3 linked regions of the Homo sapiens genome follow. The protein of the gene in region 2 interacts with the protein of the main gene of each other region in a pairwise test. Each region holds a gene or a part of one and is shown on either strand. Other genes may lie near its edges.

What was found. Proteins that work in one complex are often made in the same cells at the same time.
Region 1: the proteins of ELOVL4 (region 2) and SNORC interact in binary tests that used the Homo sapiens proteins (3 or more experiments, as listed by UniProt).
Region 3: the proteins of ELOVL4 (region 2) and FDFT1 interact in binary tests that used the Homo sapiens proteins (3 or more experiments, as listed by UniProt).

The regions. Positions count from the first base shown.
Region 1 is NC_000002.12:232,873,057-232,879,497, reverse strand, and holds the end of SNORC (protein SNORC isoform c precursor), read right to left. Parts: intron 4,044-6,441; exon of another isoform or gene 4,001-4,043; coding exon of another isoform or gene 3,943-4,000; intron 3,905-3,942; exon of another isoform or gene 3,693-3,904; intron 3,667-3,692; exon of another isoform or gene 3,559-3,666; coding exon 3,376-3,558; intron 3,252-3,375; coding exon 3,142-3,251; 3' UTR 798-3,141; downstream 1-797. Other genes in the region: NGEF (ephexin-1), read left to right, coding at 1-9. UniProt on the Homo sapiens protein: Plays a role in the regulation of chondrocyte maturation and postnatal endochondral ossification. May inhibit cell growth stimulation induced by FGF2.
Region 2 is NC_000006.12:79,923,291-79,930,794, forward strand, and holds part of ELOVL4 (very long chain fatty acid elongase 4), read right to left. Parts: intron 3,092-7,504; coding exon 2,904-3,091; intron 1,743-2,903; coding exon 1,662-1,742; intron 1-1,661. UniProt on the Homo sapiens protein: Catalyzes the first and rate-limiting reaction of the four reactions that constitute the long-chain fatty acids elongation cycle.
Region 3 is NC_000008.11:11,819,534-11,827,037, forward strand, and holds part of FDFT1 (squalene synthase), read left to right. Parts: intron 1-2,216; coding exon 2,217-2,345; intron 2,346-6,490; coding exon 6,491-6,682; intron 6,683-7,504. UniProt on the Homo sapiens protein: Catalyzes the condensation of 2 farnesyl pyrophosphate (FPP) moieties to form squalene. Proceeds in two distinct steps.

The sequences.
Region 1 (6,441 bases), on a different chromosome or scaffold from region 2:
CGGCAATGACCCCCACCCAGGGGGCCAGCGGGAGCAGGGCCTGCATGAGACCCCGACAGAAGGTGGGGGGGGGGGGGCTCTGGGAAGCACAGGCCAGCACCTCCCCAGGTGGCAGGATCTGGCTTGGGGTGCCCGGCCCTCATCCCTGCCCACGCAGTGAGTGCTCATGTGTCTTGGCCCCTTGCTCGCAAACTGGATAAAGGGTGCCCAAGCCTCTCCTGATGCATTTGTAAACAAGAAGGTTTCAGCAGTATTACACCACCTCCCTCATGCCTCCGAGGGGGTGGAAGGGGGTGGGCACACTCCAGGGCCCCCCATGCCCCTGGCCCCCAGGGACTGGAAGAGGCTCCCAACCCAGAGTGTCCCTGTGGGAGGCAGGCAGAAGGTGACAATTGACACGATTTCCTGCACGCGTCCTCCTCTACCTTGGAAGCAGTTAGAATCTACCAGGCACAGATGAGGCCGCCCTTGCCTGACGGAGCTTGATGAGCAGCCCTTGGTCTCCGGTTCCAGGACTGAGAGCCCAGCTGCCTCTGCCCACCCTTCCCCAGGCCTCTGCCAGCCTCTGGCTGCACGGTCAGGCCCTGCCCCATGGCAGGCCTGCCAGAGCTTGGCTGGGGACCCCTCCCGCCTCTGGCTCCCTGATGGGCTGGATGTAACTTGTGTCTTCTAGCCCCTTAAGGAGCCCAGGTGTTTTAAGGAATGAATTGGTCACTGCATCTTGTATCGATTATGGTTCTGAGAAAAGCAAATATCACTTTTGGCTGCATTAAAAGAAGCATCATATATAAAATAAAGAAGATGAAGGTCTACTCTTTATTGCCCTTGTACACAAAGGAAGGGGGTGTTTGGTTCCAGGTAGTGAGAGAGGAGCACCCCTTCAAGGCTGGTCGAGGAGGCATGTCCCAAAGGAAGAGTTCAAGGCGGTTTCCAGAGAGGAAGGAACAGCCAGGGCCTTGCCTCAACATGGGAACGGATTTGGGCCTCCACTTGTAGGACTCCAGAAACAGAAAGGGCTGTTTGACGGAGCTGGGGACGCCCCTCTGCTGCAGTGGAAATGAGGACACAGCTTTGGAAGACCGTAGAGGCCCCGAAGTGTCCATGGTGGGGGGGGCCCTACAGGGGATCTCACCACAGGCATGGGGCTGGGACTTCCTGCACTGCCCAGAAACAGGCCCTGGGCCCTTCACACCTTCAGTTACCCAGAGCGCACCCCCTCCCCTCGCCCCAGCTCCACCTCAGTGTGCTGAGGGGTCCTGTGTGCCCAGGACCACGATCTCTGCCAGGACACAGTTTCCCTGCTCGCCAGAACAGGCCTCTGGTTTAGATCCAGTGGGACTTTGTAGCGTCTTCCCACAGGCCACAGCAGGGTGCTCGGACCTCAGACCCTCTGAGAATCACAGAGATGCACAGGCATGTGACACTGGTTCCACCGGAGAGGGAGGCCCCCTGGTCCCAGTGAGGGGCTGTGATGCACCCGTTGGTGGGGGAGTGCTTGCAGAGTGGGGAAAGGGAAAGAGGGGGCCATCTCTCGTCCCTGGAGGGGAGGGTTGGGAAGGAGTTGGGTGGCCATTGGTCCCCGTGCCTTTTGAGGATGGGAAACAGCATGTTGGGTTGGATCGTCCGCTCTGATGAAGGCTTTGGTTACTCAAGGTTATGTGAGATGAAGTCAGTTAACCAATTAGGAAAATAGGTCAGTTTCATAGCACTCCTTTATAAGCAGAATCATTGAACTCACAGTGTATTTTGGGGAGACTGGTTGAGTGGGAAGCTGTTAACAGACTTGGATGAGGCCTTGACCCTATCCCCCAGTGTGTGAGAGGTGCGCGGGCACCACCTGGGCTCCAGTGTCCAGGAGGAGAAAGTCACGGCAGGAAACAGTGCCATGGGGAGCTCAGGGACACCAAAGGGGCCAAAACAGCTGCTAGAGAAAATGAATTTTTAAAAAAGAGAAGCAGCTTGCCCTCCAGCAACATTCCCACTCAGGAATCTTCAGATACATTAAGCTGTCCCCAAGGGGTCTGCTGGCCTCCAAACTGTCCAACCCTTCCCTCCAAAGGCCCTGGGGACTGGGGTAGGGACCAAGTTCCCACTTCCTGCTGTGCTGAGCAGGTTAAATGATCAAAGGATCAAAGTTTACATCTCTAAATGCTTCCGAGGTGGGGACCCTGGACCAGGCTCCTCACCCTCACTCCGCCCCGACTCTCTGAGGGTGAAGTGAGGTGAGTAGAGCTGGGAAAGCCGTTTTCTCTCCCTGAACAAACCAACCGTGGGCGTGGGGGCTGCCGGCCCCCAGCCAGGCCTGGGGGTGAGAGTAGGAAGCAGGGGCGGGCCGTGTCCGGCGTCGACTCTCGACTCATCCTGCTCCTGAGGCTCCCTGGGCAGAGGGGGGCTTGGGGCTGCTGGTCTGAGCCCGCGGATGGGGCCCTGGCTGCAGGACTCAGAGTCAAGACGTCCCCCAAAACCACGCGGCCTCTGGCTGGGAGAGCCGACGGCCCCTGCCCTCCCCAACCCCGGCCTCAAGGAGCGGCGGGCCCCGGGGTCTCTGTCGGCCTCTCCTGCCCTAGCGCTTACCTCCTCACGGAACGCTCTGAACCCCAGCGGAGCGGGATGGGAGGCAGGCCCCGGGGAGCGCGGCGAGGGCCTCGGCCCGCGCCCAGGCAGAGGAGGCGGCGCCGGGAGAAGGGGCCGCCCGTGGCGTGGCCCTGACCGTGACGGTGCCCCCGGACGGGCTAAGACCGCTGGCCGCACACCCGCTCCGATGCCCTGGCGGCCCCGGCGCACGCGCACCGGGCACGCACATGCGGCGCGCTCCTGAGGCACTCCAGCCGTGGTGCACGGGGACGCCGAGCCGCGCGGCCCTGCGCGCGCTCAGGTGCACGCCACACGCAGGCGGGCTCGGACATGCTGTGCGCTCACGCACGCCCCGGCGCCCCTGCGGGGAATTCGGGCGCGCCTCCGGACCCGCGCGCGTGCACGGCACCCACCCTCGGCCCCGCGCGCACCCCCGCCCTGAGCGCTCGCCTGCGCGCGCTCACGCTCTGGCACACCTGCATGCGCGGACACGCACGCGCGGACATACAGGCGCGTGAGGAGTGCAGCCGAGTCGCGCCGCGGCCGGGCGCGGCCCCTTTATTCGCTTCAGGAGGCAGAAAACTTTCTCAGCGCGACGACCACGAGCGCCAGCACCACGCAGGTGGCCAGCAGGGCGGCGATCACGATGGCCGCGATAGCGCCGGGCCCCAGCGACCCTGCGGAGGACGGAGGACCATGTCACCTGCTAGCCCCCGCCTGGCCGGCCCTTCTCCCCGCGCCCCCCGCCCCCCGCCCCTCCTAATTTCTCCCTCTCCCCTCCCTCCCCCGCCCCGCCCGTACCGCCGCCCTGGTCCAGCCGCTCCTGCGCGGTGCTGTCCTCGGGTCCTGGCGCGACGGTGGGGGCTGGGGGACCGGTGTCCACGGGCTCCCGGCCGGGGCTGGTGCTCTCCACGGGGCCTTCTCCCGACGGCAGCTCGGCCGGCTCGTTCCACAGCGTGGGCACGGGCTCCTGTGGAACATCGTCTGCAAAGCCAAGGAGAGGTGCTGGGGCCCCAGGTGACGGGGCCGACAGGGACGTCACCCCCCACCTCTAGGTTAAGCAAGTTGCCGGTAGCGCTGTGTGAGGGGTCTGGGCTCAGCGCTGCACTAGCCCTCACATTTCCCAGGCTAAGAAGCTGAAGCCAGTGCGTTGCTGCCTCCCATTGGGCAGGGCCGGTGGGTGGGCAGGAGGAGTGTCTGTTCAGTGTAAGGGAGGTGCCCCCCACAAAGCCCTTCTCTGCTTATAGGGTTGGGAGTTGGCAGGATTTGGGGTACCCAGGGACCAGAGAGCAGAAAGGAGACATTCTCAGTCCCACAGAAAGCACAGGCTGAGACGCCTGCATGATAACCCCCGCCCTGTATCCTCACCAGCCAGCCCACCCCAGTTGTCCTCCCCTGACCACCACTCCAACCCTGGGCCATCCATCCCCGGCAACCAGACAGGATGCCCCAGAAACGCTGGAAAGCTCAACATGGGGATGGTAGGTCGGCTCTTGGCCTCTCCAGCCCAGCCAGACCATCTGACATCACAGTGTTAGCAGGGCAGGCCTGCCCATGTCCTAATCTCTCTCTCTCTCTTTTTGAAACAGAGTCTTGCTCTGTGCCCAGGCTGGAGTGAAGTGGTACAATCTCGGCTCACTGCAGCCTCCGCCTCCCGGGTTCAAGCAAGCGATTCTCCTGCCTCAGCCTGCGGAGTAGCTGGGACTACAGGCACCTGCCACTACACCCAGCTAATTTTTGTATTTTTAGTTGAGACGGGGTTTGCCATGTTGGCCAGGCTGATTTTGAACTCCTGACCTCAGGTGATACACCCGTGTCGGCCTCCCAAAGTGCTGCGATTACAGGTGTGAGCCACTGCGGCCGGCCCCATGCTCTAATCTCAACTGGGATAGAGACTGTGATCCAGGGACACTCGACCCTCAAGCCGGTTCCCTGGATGAGCTTGGGGATGTCCCAACACCTCATCTCTTTGACTCCAGCTACTCTGTGGTGTGGGAACTGCTTTTATCCCCATTTCAGAGACAAGAAAGCCAAGGCTTGGGGATAAGGTGCCGTGGTGGTGAGCACAGGTGGGCTGAAGGCCTTGGACAGTTGCAGGAGCGGTTGTGCTGCCCAGAAACAGTGCAGGGAGGCTGCCGTTCTGTGAACAGACCCTGCCGGCCAGCCGGCGACCCTAGGGCACCTTTTGTCCCTGCGGGTTCCATCCCTGAGCGCTGGGGCAAGAGTCAAGCCAGACACTTGCCCTCCTCATAGGTTCACCAGCACCCAGAGAGGCGGATGCTCGAGAAGACACAGAGGTCCTTCCAGGGTTTTCTGGCCAGTTGTGTCCATCTAGGGCAAACCACGCAGAAACATCAGCCAACCCAGACTCAGGGTCAGTCTTAAAGTAAATGGGCCTTCCCAAATGTCAAAGTTAGGAAAAACAAAGAAAGGCCGAAAGGTTCCAGATCAGAGACTAAGGAGACAGCTCAATGTTCCTGGACGGGGAGGGACAGGCCTGTGATCGGAGACTCAGGTCCGTTGGTGAAGTTTGAACAGGGTGTGGCTTAGGACTGCCTCAGTGCTCACTTCCTGGTTTTGATAGCTGACTCTGGTGTGTTAAGAGAATGTCCTTGTTCTTAGGAAGAATTTAGGGGCAAAGGAACATGACTTCTGCAACTTACTCTCAAATGATTTCAGCATTCAGATAGAGGATTCAGCAATGTAGCAAAATGTTGGCAGTTGGCAAGACTAGGTGGATGGACTCCTGGAGTTCATTGGAGTATTTGTGCAACTTTTCTGTAAACTTCACATCTTTCCACAATAAAATGTTAGCAGGTCCCTGGCTTCTGGGCCTCTCTCAAGCCTGGAGAGGTCAGTTGCAAGGCTCAGCTCTGAGACAGCTTGCTGACCTTTCACCTGACCTGCCACATTCCCCAGGGCTGGCCCAAGGCAGAACCCCTTTCCAGAAAAGACCTCTGGCAGGAGGCCCCATGGGTGGAAGGCCCATTGGCCCCCAACTGGGGGAGGCTTCCCTCCCGAGGGGCCCAAGGCTGCACTGTAGCACTGATGTCTCTCTAGCCTCCCGCAAACCTTGAAGACCACCCTGAGAGGAGGGGAAGTGACCCAGCCAGGCCTCCCATGTCGCAGCCAGAAAGGCAGGGGTCTGCAGCCTTGCAGTCCCCATGGAAGGCCCCAGGCCCCTGGCGTGCTGCCTCAGGCTTCTGGGGGCTGGGCAGGTAAAAGGCCTGAGTGCGCCCACCGCCTGGCAGGCACCAGGGTCTAGGCTCACTGACTGCCTGAACATGTCCAAAGAAATGGACAAATGACACACCCAAGACAGACTGGCAGGTAGGCACCTCCCTGCATCTGGAGGCCGCGGCAGGGCTTCTGGGTACCAGGCCCAGCTGAGCCGGGTGGCATCTGCGGGAATCAGCCGAGGAGTGGCAGGCCTCCAGCCCCTGAGAAGGCAGGGCTCAGTACCCAGGCCAGCCCAGCAGGGGTGAGCTGCCACCCTTGACGGTACCCTCTGAGCAGGGCAGTGGGGAGCCCCACTCAGGCCCTGTCCCCATCTGTCCCCCGTGACCCAGCCTGTCTCTGCTGCGCCCACCACCAGACATACCTGCCCTGGCCTCCTCCCACTGTACACAGCCCCCTCCTGTCCAGCCAGGCCATGAAGCTTTCTAATCAGGAGGGCTGGGGCCTATCCTTGCTCCATGCCCCAATCCACCTTCCTGACCTGTAAGACGGGGGTTCAGACTATGCTGTCAAGCATCTTGCACAAGGAGGTAACTGTGTGAACACCAGCATCTTCAGCTGCTGCGTCTGGCCTGGGGTGCGCCTTTGGACACAAGCCCAGTTGCTATGGGTCTGCAGCCGCTGGCTGCC
Region 2 (7,504 bases):
TTCAAATGAAATCTGTTGCAAATCTCAGGTTCTTTATCCTCCTAGATTACAGTTCTCATAATAGCTCATTTTTTAAAGACTTGAAAATTTACATCTGTAAGTGAGAGTGGTATTTTTAAACCTTTATCCTAAAAATAGTAATATGTTGCCCCACCCAAGGGTTTTTCTATGCATACTCCCAGAAGTCAGTCAGTCAAACACTTATCCCTGTTCCCTTCCCTACGGCAAGCAAGAAGTCAGCCCTCCAACTGAAGAGATTCTTTGGCAATAGTTATCAGAAGAAAATTTTTCATAGCCAATACATCTGAGTAGTCTCTCATTTTCTCTCAGTCACCTTCTAGGTTTTATTTCCTCCTTAGTCATTTGTTTACATGGCTGCTGTCTGCCTTCTCACCCTCACTAAAATGCCAGCCCCACAAAGGCAGGGCTTTTCACCCCTGTCCCCAGTACCAACATATAGTAGATGCTCAATACATATTTAATGAATAAATAAAACCAACATGACAACCAAGACAGGTGATTTTTCATCAGTCCATAAGTCTTCTAATAGGGAAATGAAGATACGTACATAAAATTGTTAAGTACATTAAACCAATTTTGTCTCCAGTCTTGATGAATACTGATATTTATATATTGTCCACTCCCCATGCCAGGAAACTATTTTTCTCAAGGGAAGCCACTAGATATTATTACTACATATACTATAGGTAACATAAAACATGTTATGTTTTATATGTAATTTCTAGTATGAACCACAGTATATAAGAAGAGTTCAATAAATACGTAATAGAATAAGGTAATCTGTTGTTTCTTTTGCTTAATGTTAATTTTACTCATGTAAGTGAATGGAAAATAAAATATAACATCTTGTTACTAGTGTTTTATTTTTCTGCAAATATAAAAAAACTGAGTTTATGCCAATACAAATTGTTCTATGCCTAATTTCCTAAATATTCCACACTTCACAAAACATTTACTTTTCCTCACTTTCTTAACACATAACTTGGACTCTAAGAGTTTCTACTCTTGAGCAAAAACAAACAAACAAAAATCTAAAATAATGTCTTTAAAATAAACATGAGACTTCTTTGCTTTAACAAGTACTGCATTCTAGTAATTCAATGCATATTCACTCATGCTGCAAAATAAAAAACATTTTTGAGATACAAAAACAAATTTTAAATTAAGTACTTTTTAAAAAAGCATAGTTTTACTGACTCATAACAATCTAGTATAATTTCACTATCATATTAAAGTACATTTTGCCAGGTGTGGTGGCTCACACCTGTAATCTCAGCACTTTGGGAGGCTGAGGCAAGAGGATCCCTTGCGGCTGGGAGTTCAAGACCAGACTGGGCAACATAGCAAGACCCTGTCTCTACAAAAAGTAAAAAAATATCTAGGCATGGTGGGGTACACCCGTAGTCCCAGCTACTTGGGAGGCTGAGGCAGAAGGATCAATTGAGCCCAGGAGTTTGAGGCTGCAGTGAGCTATGATCATACCACTGCACTTCAGTCTGGGGGACAGAGCAAGAAACTGTCTCTAAATGAATGTTAAAGAAACTGTCTCTTAAAAAAAAGTACATTCTATATTTTCACAGACTGGGGCCTATAAAAATCAAACCACTTTTACTGATTAAGAGTATTTTTAATGTACTTACCCTGACTTCATGAACATTATTAGAATAATCCACACTCTGGCAAATATAGCTATATCCCGCATTATATGATCCCATGAATAACTGGAAAAAGAGTAATAATATTTGTAGTAAAGTTTTAGTAAACACAGCATTAAAAACACAATTATATACAAAATGTAGCCTTTCAAATTATTTTAAACACAATATTTTCTTTAAAAATTTCAAATGCATTAAAAATTTCATGCATTCCGATTGCTAGAAGTTACTGTGCATTAATTTGTTCTATAATTAAAATCTAAATTAAAAATCACATGTAAATTTTATACTGAACATTGACTCTATCTATTAAATACTTCACAGTATTAAGAGAAATTTTTATTGCTAGGACTCAGATTTCAAAGTTGTCCTACCTTAACTGGTTTCTATGTTTGATCCAGAGTGGTTTGCATCTAACAAATTAGGTACAGGTATCCAAATAAATTAAAGTGTTCATGAAGTTGAGACTCGAGGCTAAGTTTTCAAGTAAAGAAATATTTCTTTTTCTAAGAAGAGTTATTGTTTATTTTCCTAGCATTACTAGTCAGTTCTCTGGCTTCATACAGAATTTTAATGAGTCTCTTAGGAAACAAATTCTTTATACATATGCAATTTAAAAAATGGCTGTGTCAATCTAGCCTTTAGGATTTCCTTTGAAAATGTTGTGGAGAATTTGCTAGTGCCCAGAAAAGTATATAATGATTAGTAACAACAGCTATATGGCAGTTAATTCATTTTAATTCCAGCCCAAAATACAACATTATGTAATAGGATTTACTTGAAATTGGCATATTTTGATCAGTTACCAAACCAGAAACTACTGAATAAGAATTATAAATAAATAGCTGCTACTGTTTACTGAGTGCTTAATACGTGCCAAACACTATGCAAAAATTATCTTACTTTACTCCGATAATAACCTGAGATGGTAGGTATTTAAGTGGGGAAAACGAGGCTAAGAAAAGTTAAATAACTTTCAATGCCAGAACAGCTAATAAGGGTTACTTTAGAATCCAGTTGGTCTTATTCAAAATTCCACTTTAAACAACTTTCCTATACCTCATGTTTAATATTTTTGTTATTCAAAAGTGAAAAATGTCAAAAATGTACTTTTAGAGTAGCTAACAGTTATGTCTGGGTAAAATATTACAATGATGGTTTTACACATTCTCATTTTTAAATTTCCAATAACCTTGGAAAATTATTAAAGTGATCTTAAAAACATACCTCTCTGAAGATAAAGAGGTTAAGCAAAACCATCCCAAAATTATAGATAATGAGCACTAGACGCATCTGAAAAGGTTCTCGGTCCTTCATCCATTTTGGACCCAGCCACACAAACAGGAGATAAAGAGTGCTTATACTTAGTGTAGGCCAAGGAGACTGCATCAGAGGCCAATTTTCCACACGCTTATCTATAGAGAGAACAAAATACCATAAAATTCATTAATCAGTAAATGTTTTATAAAATACACTTTTTAGGAATCAAGATGTTTCAACTTAATTTCCTAATTTGACTAAATACGGATCACTGTCCTTTGAGTCCCAACAAAAAATACATGGTATAAAAACCAAAGAAACAATACTGACTCCTGCAAGTGGCTTTTGAAAATTATGCTTCATTACTTATGTCACACATTATGTTTTACAGAGACCCTACAGAACAAAAACAAGAAATAAAGCGCACTAAAAACAGAGGTGGTTATCTTGGGATGAAAAGTTAATGAAAAACTTCATACACAGAAAATAAATATGTTAAGGAAACATTTGTCTTCCATATTATACACGTGAAATTTATCAGGGCAGCTTGGAGGCTGCTCTGTGTGTCCACTCCTAAAGCAGGCAAGAATGTAACTGGAGAGGTACGTACGGGGCGATGGTAGCCATTTGCTGAAATATCTCGAGACACTGAAGACAAGAGTACAGGGGCACTGAGAGATTAAGTTAGGGTTAATTACAATTCTATAATGTAAACAGTCACCATATTCAAGACATTTTTCTAACTTTTTCATTGAGAACATGCACCTATTTTATTCCCATGAATAACTAACTTGAATGTTTTTCTCTAGAGCTGTAAATCGCATAACTTACATATGTGTAACTATATATATAAAATGCAACACATTATTTTACTTAAAATGAATTGATTGTCCAGCATATTCAAATACACAACCATAAATCAATTTTATAATGGAATGTTGCCACAAGTAAAACATTTCTGAAACAAGCATGATAATGAAATATGGATGGGATTAACAAAAATTCATCTTTTAACACATTATAAAAATATATTAATATTAATTTTTATATTTCTAAAAGCTAAACAACAGTTGAAGGTTGCAAATCTAATTTCTAGTTTATTCTTGGCAATGCAAAACATTTTATGTCGTATTTTGAAGAAATAATGTATTTTTAAAGTAGTAAAAGAAAATTCAACTTCTTAGAACCAACCTAAATGAATTTAACTTAATTGTTGATCATAATAACTCCCTATTTAAACTGTCATTTTTACTAAAGCCTGTATATGCAAAATGCTTCTGGATTAGTGAACTAGGTATTAAAATACCTTACTTAAAAAATTAATCTGTGTCTATATACTGTCAATAGACAGTAAGATACAAGATACGAAACACAATATTTAATCAAACAATTTGCAAAGTCAGGAAATGACACAACTATGGTTTTAATGAAATCAGAGTTGTTAAGAAGGTGAGCTATTGCTTGATGACTCGAGATATGGGAAAAAAAGGTGATAATGACTTGAAAGAAAAACACATATGGGAACCAGGAAAACAGAAAAACTGATTTTATTTCATAGTTTTAAAAGGAGGTCTACTATTCATAGAGATTATGGCTATATCACTCAAATCAAACACATTTCAGAGTTAAAAATAAACCAATATATTTGAACCACAGGAGAGATGGTAAACTTCTCACAAGGAGGAAATGACTTAAAAGATAGCACGGCTGACTTTTGTTAAAAAGGCGTTGTGCCACGAAGGTCTTATCAGTGACTGTTCACTTTTCTTAATGGCATTTTATCATTTTATGTTCATTATCATTCTATGACCATATCTTTCTATGCTAAAGGCCCCCTATAAAACATGAGGTGTGCATCTACTTAGGTATTTCTTTTTCTATATTATAGAAAAAAAAAGATTTAGACAAACCCCCTATATTAGAGAAGAAACATTTAGACAAACTCTCTGTTCTAGGTCACAGAGAAGGAGTTGCTGTGGTATCCTGTTCTTTTCCACCAACTTTAAGGCAGGCGCTGTTTTTCCCATGAGACTTATACAAAGAGCAAAAGTACTCTGATTAATGCCATACTCCATGTAACAAAGAAAGGAAGATAAATGTATCTGTGAGGAGATTTTAATTCCTAACATCATAGATTATCTCTCACCCTTACCACACACAGAATTCCTACTGACTTCAAAGAAAGTTCTGAGTAGCGGGTAGAAAAAAAAAATTAAAGAAATAGGTCCAAACCTCTGCCAGAAATTAAGAGTAAGTAAAAGTGCTCATTCTTTTTGATGTACAGTGTGGTATGCTGTATCGTTTTCATTCAACAGAGAAATTTAAAGAGAGGACTACCACAGGAGAGAGGGAAAGAGACACTAGTGAGAAGCTGAAGATCTTACAATATGAAACACTAATAGAGGCCAATAGAAGAGTAAAAAAGTAAAGAGAAACAGGAAATAACAGAGGCATCAGAGAAAGCACACAAGACCCTACCAGTAAGTAGACTGGTGACTGGGTTTTTTTTTTTTTTTTTTTTTTTTTTTTAAGAAATGGAGTCTCATTCTATTGTCCAGACTAGAGGGCAGTGGTGCACACATGGCTCACTGCAGCCTCCACCTCCAGGGCTCAAGTGATCCACCTGCCTCAGCCTCCTGAGTTGCTGATGCCACAAATTATAAGTAAATAAAAATGTTCATTCTTTTTTATATATAGTGTGGTGCACTGTTGTTCTCTCATTCAACAGAGAATTTCCAAAAGAGAGAAGGAAAGAGGCACTAGTAAGAAGCCACCATGACCAGCTGACTGGCTGAGTTCTAACACTGGCTCTGCTACTGTGCATAGGACCTTAGGAGCACAATCTATCTTCATTTCCTCCATCTGTAAAACTGGATGGGAAGTAGGTGAACCAGATTAGTGCTTCTCCAGTTTCAATGAGAAAACGAATCACCAGGTTGGGGAGGGGGGCGGGTGGGCATGGTAAAAATGCAGATTTTGAGACAGTGGGTCAGATATGCAGCCCATTTCTTTTCTTTTCTTTTTTCTTTTTTGAGACAGAGTCTCGTTGTGTCACCTAGGCTGGAGTAAAGTAGCACGATCTCCGTCCACTGCAGGCTCAGCCTCCTGAGCTCAAGCCATCCTCCCACCTCAGACTCCCAAGTAGCTGGTCCTACAGGCACACGCCAACACACCCTATTACTTTTTGTATTTTTTGTAGAGACAGGATTTTGTCATGCTGCCTAGGCTGGTCTCAAACTCCTAAACTCAAGCAATCCATCCACCTTGGCCTCCCAAAGTGTTAGGATTACAGGCGTGAGCCACCATGCCCAGCCCATGCAGCCCATTTCTAAGAAGACCACATTTTCCAGGAAGCTCTAACTGATGCTATGCCATTATTCCATGGACCATCCCCTTTTGAGCAGTAACAAACTACATGATCATTTAGGTTTATTTTAACTTCTGAAAATTGTTACTTTTAAAAATAATTATTAGGAGGAAGAATAGACTAATGGTGAGGAAAACTGGATCAAGAAAATTTTAACTGGTCAGGGGACGCATTTTGCATGACCAGAGCACCTGCACATGTTACTATTCCATTACAGCACTCATTACACTGTCCAGTGACCTTCTTTTAAACTGTTTTCTCCCTGAAAAGAGGGGCTGGGTGTTTCATTCTTGTATTGCAAGGCCTATCAAAGTACCTAAAAATATATTTGATGAATAAATAAAGAGTAGATAATTTTTTCACACTATTCCTCTATTCTCTATCCTTTCTGCCAAATCCAAAAGCACATTTGTTGATATTCAAGGTTTCCTCAGTGTCCAAGAACCCTTCCTAGAGCTTTTCCCAGATCCTCCTCTATGCTGGCATAATAACTTTATCCTCAAGTCAACAACTCATCAACCTAGTATTTAGTGAATATATGTGCTCTACAAAGCTCAATGACCTTTTACTTCATTCCTTACTCCAGGGGAAAAAAGCAATGCCCTCACTTCTTTGCCCAACAATGCAAGGCATGCATTCATTCAACAACCACTTAACAAATCCCTGTTTTCAGCCTATAAAAGGCCACATTTTACACCATACCCTTCTCAAATTAGCCCTTCTAGTTCAGCAGGGTCAGAGAGCTTTCAAAAATTCAGCCTCCCAGGATTATCATGGAAGCTACAGTAACTGTCAACCCCTAATCCACAGCATAACAATTCCCAACCTTTTAATAATATTTGGATGAAATTCCTCCATGTCTTTACATGTTATAATACTATACTAGTTATGTTTGTTTTTCTGCATGTATTTGCATTAATATTTCCTTTAGTGCTTCTGATGAGATGCAAATATTCTATATTTCTTTCATATGTTTCCTTTTCCACTAAAAAGGGCTGTGTCACAATAGTGCCATACAACGATATGAAAATTCATCATTACTAACAGTTCCACCTGAGTTTTAAACCAAAAAAAGGTTGGGGGGCTAAAACAGTAAAGGAAAATCATGAATACTAATGCTTCATGTATTTTATGTAAACTTTAAATATATTAAATTATCCATATTTTCATTAACTCGAATGTTTAAAAATATATATTAATA
Region 3 (7,504 bases), on a different chromosome or scaffold from region 2:
TGTTCATTTCTTTTCATTCTTTTTTCTCTAATCTTGTCTTCTTGCTTTATTTCATTAATTTGATCTTCGATCACTGATATCCTTTCTTCTGCTTGATCGAATCGGCTATTGAAGCTTGTTTATGCTTTGTGAAATTCTTGTACTTTGGTTTTCAGCTCCATCAGGTCATTTAAGCTCTTCTCTACACTGGTTATTCTAGTTAGCCATTTGTCCAACCTTTTCTCAAGGTTTTAAGTTTCCTTGCGATCGGTCAGAACGTGCTGCTTTAGCTTGGAGAAGTTTGTTATTACCAACCTTCTGAAGCCTACTTCTGTCAACTCGTTAAACTCATTGTCCATCCAGTTTTGTTCCTTTGCTGGTGAGGAGTTACGTTCCTTTGGAGGAGAAGAGGCGTTCTGTTTTTGGAATTTTCAGCCTTTCTGCTGTGGTTTCTCCCCATCTTTGTGGTTTTATCTACCTTTGGTCTTTGATTTTGGTGACGTACAGATGGGTTTTGGTGTGGGTGTCCTTTTTGTTGATATTGATCCTATTCCTTTGTTTGTTAGTTTTCCTTCTAACAGAGGCCCGTCAGCTGCAGGTCTGTTGGAGTTGCTGGAGGTCCACTCTAGACCCTGTTTACCTGGGTATCACCAGTGGAGGCTGCAGAACAGCAAATATCGCGGCCTGATCCTTCCTCTGGAAGCTTCGTCCAAGAAGGACACCCACCTATATGAGGTGTCTGTCGGCCCCTACTGGGAGGTGTCTCCTCCCAGTCAGGCTACATGGGGCTCAGGGACCCACTTGAGGAGGCAGTCTGTCCGTTACTGGAGTTCAAATGCCGAGCTGGGAGAACCACTGCTCTCTTCAGAGCTGTCAGGCAGGGATGTTTAAATCTGCAGAAGCCGTCTGCTGCCTTTTGTTTAGATATGCCCTGCCCCCAGAGATGCAATCTAGAGAGGCAGTAGGCCTTGCTGAGCTGCGGTGGGCTCCACCCAGTTCAAGCTTCCTTGCTGCTTTGTTTACACTGTGAGCATAGAAGTGCGTACTGAAGCCTCAGCAATGGCGGGGAGGCGCTTCCCCTCACCAAGCTCCAGCATCCCAGCTTGATCTCAGACTGCTTGGCTAGCAGCAAGCAAGGTTCCATGGGCATGGGACCCCCCGAGCCAGGCACTGGAGGCAATCACCTGCTCTGCCAGTTGCGAAGACTGGGAAAAGCACAGTATTTGGGCAGAGTATACTGTTCCTCCAGGTACAGTCACTCACGCCTTTCCTTGGCTAGGAAAGGGAAATCCCCTGACCCCTTGCACTTCCTGGATGAGGTGACGTCCTGCCCTGCTTTGGCTCACCCTCCATGGGCTGCACCCACTGTCCAACCAGTGCCAGTGAGATGAACCAGGTACCTCAGTTGGAAATGCAGAAATCACCCATCTTCTGCATCGATCTTGCTGGGAGCTGTAGACCAGAGCTGTTCCTACTGGGACATCTTGGAAGCAACTCTGGGTCTGAGTTTCTGTTTGTTGCCCTGATGTATATCCCCAGTGCCTAGAATGATACTTGTTACATAGGAAGTGCTTGATCCATGTTTGCACAAATGAATCTTTCTCATAATGAGGTTTCTCTAAACAAGCTGTTCTCCCAAAAACTTAAACCCAGCTTTATGTTGAAGCATCTCATTATACATTGGAAAGATGAAATGTGTAGTGAGACTTTGAATCTTCTTTTGAATCTAGAAACATTAGCATTTTTAGACCATTCTATTTTAATATTTATGAAATTTATGAAATAATAAGAAACATGAGGCCGGGCTCAGTGGCTTATGCCTGTAATCCCAGCAGTTTGGGAGGCCAGGGCTAGTGGATCATGAGGTCAGGAATTTGAGACCAGCTTGGCCAACATGGTGAAACCCCACTTCTACTAAAAATATAAAAATTAGCTGGGCGTGGTGGTGCATGCCTGTAATGCCAGCTCCTGGAGAGGCTGAGGCAGGAGAATCATTTGAACCTGGGAGGCGGAGTTTGCAGTGAGCTGAGATCGTGCCATTGCACTCCAGCCTGGGCAACATTGCGAGACTCCATCTCAAAAACAAAAACAAAAACAAAAAAAATGTGTGACCTAAATTAGGCTTATAGATGAACCATTGCAGTCATGATTAATTCCGCCATTGTTTGCCTTGTGATCTTTGGTGCCATGTCTGTACATATTTCATGATTTCTGTGTTTTTACGGTTTCCATTTCAGATCTCCCTTGAGTTTAGAAATCTGGCTGAGAAATACCAAACAGTGATTGCCGACATTTGCCGGAGAATGGGCATTGGGATGGCAGAGTTTTTGGATAAGCATGTGACCTCTGAACAGGAGTGGGACAAGGTTAGTCTCATAAAACAGTGTCTGTGTGTGATGTATTAGACAGAGCTGGCAGTCCTCATAGTGAAGCTCAGAACAAGAAAAGTTGTCCAGTATTTTCAGCCCCTCTGGTTTTACAATTCATCTGTTTAGGTTGAATGTCTCATCATAAACAGTTTATTCCAGAGTTAATTCCAAACCAGCAGCTATGTAGGATATCAGCCAGGCTAGGAGTAGGGTACTGGAGAGAAGTGCTTATCTAGACAAAGGGATGTAATTGACCATGAAGATTAAAACTACACATCAAAACATAAGGTAGGGTTAGGAGTCTTGCCTATTTTTCATAGGAATGGTGTTTGTGAGACTTACTCATCACTTCTGTGGAAGTAAAGACATTTTATTTATTTATTTTAAAGCCAGTCAGATTTAGCAGGCAGAGACATTTCAGACATCTAAAGTGTTGATGTATTTCATACCTTTAACTGTGCTTAAATTAGGATCTCCGAAAAGATGCTGCTACATGGTCACTACGTTAGTGTAGGTCCAAGGTCTTGGGCCTCTTAATTTTTCAAACCTCAAAACTTGACAGCAGTTATCTTTGGAACTGCTGATTTGTGCTTCCTAAGTTAACAGCATACAATGACTGCTAGAAATCAATTTCTGCATTTAAGGTGAAGTTAGCCGGGTACTATGGTTTACCTGTAATCTCAGCACTTTGGGAGGCTGAGGTGGGAGGATCATTTGAGCCCAGGAGTTAGACACAAGCCTAAGCAACATAGCGAGACCCCGTCTTTCAAAAAATTAAAAAATGAGCAGGGAATTGGTGGCATGTGCCTGTGGTCCCAGCTACTCTGGAGGCTGAGGTGTGGGAGGATTGCTTGAGCCCAAGAGTTGAAGGTTGCAGTGAGCCATGATTGTGCCACTGCACTCCAACGTGGGTGACAGAGCAAGACACCATCTGAAAGAAAATAAAGTTGAAGTTAAAACTTCTGGCCAAGAACCAGCACTGGTTATGATAGTAACTCATTTTCTGTTGTGCAGATTTATTCAGGAAACTTAATTTTAGGTTGTTGAATAGAAGTTTTGATCAGATAAAATTGAATTAAAAAAAATTTTTTTTGAGACAGGGTCTTGCTGTTATCCAGGCTGGTGTGTAGTGGTGTGATCACGGCTCCCCGCAGCCTCAACCTCCTGGGCTCAGGTGATCCTCCCACCTCAGCCTACCGAGTAGCTGTAACTACAGTGCATGACACCATACCAGGCTCATTTTTGTACATTTTTTGTAGAGAGAGGGTTTTGCCATGTTGCCCAGGCTAGTCTCAAACTCCTGGCATCAAACAGTCCTCCCACTCTGGCCTCTCAAATGTTGGGATTACAGGCATGACCAGCCAATTATTTCAAGGAGTTATTTTTTTTCTTCTACTTTGGGGGAAGATGAATTATATAAGTCTCCATTTTAGGAGTATTTCTACCAAAAGAACTATTATCTTCAAATATATTTTTGGATAGTACTATAGATATACTAATTTTTTTTTAAATTTCTAGTAATTCTTTTGAAGATTTTGTATAGCTGTCCAAAGCCAATTTCTGTCTACCTAATTTCAGCAAGATTTCACTCTTTTCATGTTACTTTTGTCCCAGAACAAATTTCAAGTGCTTTCTCTTCACCTGTGCATTCTTCCCCCTGATTAGTCTCTGGCTTTGTATTACTTTCAGTCAGAGACGACTTTTTTTTTTTGAGACAGGGTCTCACTCTGTCACCCAGACTGGAATGCAGTGGCACAGACAAGGCAGCCTTGACCTTCTGGGCTCAAGCAATCTTCCTTGCCCTCAGCCTCCTGAGTAACTGGGACCACAGGCACGTTGCCACCATGCCTGGCTAATTTATTTTAATTTTTATTATTTTTGAGACAGGGTATTGCTCTGTCACCCAGGCTGGAGTGTAGTGGCATGATCAAGGCTCACTGCAGCCTTCACCTCCTGTGCTCAAGCAGTCCTCTCACCTCAGCCTCCCCATTAGCTGGGACTATAGGTCCACACCACTACACCAGGCTAATTTTTGTAATTTTTTGGTAGAGACAGGGTTTCATCGTGTTGCCTAGGCTGGTCTTGAGCTCCTGGGCTCAAGCGATTCACCTGCCTTAGCCTCCCAGGTGTGAGCCACTACACTCAGCCTTTTAAAATTTTTTACAGAGATGAGGTCTTGCTTTGTTGGCCAGGCTGGTCTAAAACTCTTGGGCTCAAGCAGTCCCCTCTCCACAGCCTCCCAAAATTCCGGGATTACAGGCGTGAACTTCGGTCATTTCCTAACTTTTACCCTTCCTAATGACACTCCAGAGCTTACCTTCTTTACTTTTGCTTCTTAAGTTAACTAATAGACAATTATTGTATGTGGATATTGCATTAAGTTGTCTTAGGATACCCTTTTCAGAGGAGGACAGCTTTTGACAAATTGCTGTCGCGGAAAAAAAAAGTATTTGGCAATTAAGAGTTGCATTTACTGAAATCTCTGTTGAGAGAGGGGAAGTTACGTTGTCTCTAAAAGAAAAACTAAAAAGAAAAGGGGAAGTTTTAGCAAAGTTGTTAAAGCCTGACACTTAAGTCATACTACCTAGTTTTGAACTCTTAGCCCCTGCCACAGACACGGCAGCCCCTTGAACCTTCCTGGGTTCAAGCGAGCCTCCTACTTCAGCCCCCTGAGTAACTGGGACCACTGGCCTGTGTCACTGTGCCTGGCTAATTTTTTTTTTTTCTCACATGGGCAATGTTGGGCAAGTTAAATCGACTTCTTTGTGCCTCAGTTTCCTCATCTGAAATGGAGATCATACTGCTATGTACCTGATACAATGTTTGTGAGGATTGAATGTGCAGAGTTCTTTTTTTCTGTTGTTGTTGTTTTGAGACGGAGTCTCACTCTGTCGCCCAGGCTGGAGTGCAGTGGCGCGATCTCGGCTCCCTGCAAGCTCCACCTCCTGGGTTCACGCCATTCTCCTGCCTTAGCCTTCTGAGTAGCTGGGACTACAGGCACCCGCCACCAGGCCAGCTAATTTTTTTGTATTTTTAGTAGAGACGGGGTTTCACCGTCTTAGCCAGGATGGTCTTGATCTCCTGATCTCGTGATCCGCCCGTCTCAGCTTCCCAAAGTGCTGGGATTACAGGCATGAGCCATCGTGCCCGGCTGAATGTGCAGAGTTCTTAAAACCGTGTCAAGAACATAAAATAGTTATTTGTTCTTTCATATAATGATGATTTTGAGGGCCTGCGGATCTTGACATGTTATCAGATTGGTCAAAAAAAGATTAAACCATAGTTGGTATTGTCCTAGTTCCTGTTACCAGAATATTCCATCTTTCATCGTTGCCTTCTCTCATAGTTTTATGTATCAAAAAGTTTATTGTAAAGCTAGGGCGGGCACGGTGTCTTGGGCTGGTAATCCCAGCACTTTGGGAGGCCAAGGCTGGCAGATCAGTTGAGGTCAGGAGTTCGAGACCAGCGTGGCCAACATGGTGAAACCCCGTCTCTACTAAAAATAAAAAATTAGCTGGATGTGGTGGTGGGTGCTTTAATTCCAGCTACTCAGGAAGCTGAGGCAGGAGAATCACTTGAACCCAAGAGGCAGAGGTTGCAGTGAGTTGAGATTGTGCCAGTGCACTCCAGCCCAGGGGACAAAGTGAGACTTGATCTCAAAAAAAAAAAAAAAAAAAAAGTTATTGTAAAGCTAGACACGGTGGTATTTGCCTACAATCCCAGCTGTTCGGGAAGCTGAGGCAGAAAGATTGCTTGGGTCCAGTAGTTTGAGTCTAACGTGGGCAAATATATGAGACTCCATCTCAAAAAAAAAATAAAAAATAAAAATAAAAAAATGTTTACTAGTTTTTTTCAGTAGCCTTTTATTATAGTAGCAGTACATGTGTATTGTAGAAATTTGGAAAATACAAGTGAAAAATAAAAACATCAAATTCCCGTCAGCCAGAGACTGCTATGAAATGTTTTGAGCACATCCTTCTTGAATGTTTTTTAAATCCTGGTATGTATATTTGTATTTTAAAATCAAAATGCATTCTTACCCATTCTCTTTTGAACCTGCTTTTTTGTAGCTAATGATCTCTAGTGTGTCCATTTCAGTAAAAATTCCATTATTAAAGTGCTTTAAAAATCGTCTCTTACAGTACTGCCACTATGTTGCTGGGCTGGTCGGAATTGGCCTTTCCCGTCTTTTCTCAGCCTCAGAGTTTGAAGACCCCTTAGTTGGTGAAGATACAGAACGTGCCAACTCTATGGGCCTGTTTTTGCAGAAAACAAACATCATCCGTGACTATCTGGAAGACCAGCAAGGAGGAAGAGAGTTCTGGCCTCAAGAGGTAACAGATTCAGGGTATTTTGGGGGAAAATAACTTTAGACATTCTCTGAAAAATCCTTTAACTCTTGTGGTTGCGGGTGACAGAAAAACAAGTCAGGCCTCCCCCAGGCAGCATAAGGGGATGTGGAAAATAGGATAGCTTGACATGAGTTTGCTTCAGGTAGACTGGCTGACTCCCAGGATTCACACCACGTAATCAGTATATTCAAGCCTTGCTGTCCTTGATTTCTTTCAGACGGTCTTTCTCCAAGTGGTGGATATGGTAACAACCCATGTGCACTAGCTTAACAAAAAGTTCTTAGGAATGGCTTTGTTCGGCCTGGCGCAGTGGCTCATGCCTGTAATCCCAACAGTTTGAGAGGCCAAGGTGGGCGGATCACCTGAGGCCAGGAGTTCGAGACCAGCCTGGCCAACATCGTGAAACCCCGTGTTTACTAAAAAATACAAAAATTAGCCGGGCGTGGTGGCAAGGGCTTGTAATCCCAGCTACCTGGGAGGCTGAGGCAGGAGAATCGCTTGAACCCAGGAAGCAGAGATTGCGGTGAGCTCAGATTGTGCCACTGCACTCCAGCCTGGGCGACAGAGTGAGACTCCCTCTCAAAAGAAGAGGAAGGGCTTGGTTCTTCTGCTCAGCCCTGAATCAGTTACTGTTGCTACACAGCTGAGTTCTCTGGCCTCGCCTGGATTACGTCTACACAGTACACACAGAATGGATTTCCCCCAAAGAAAGAATTCTGCAGCAGGAAGGGGAAAGGGATGGCAGGTAGACAAAAACTCCAGGTGTCTGTAATAAGGGACAGGGTCGATCTTTAATTAAAACAT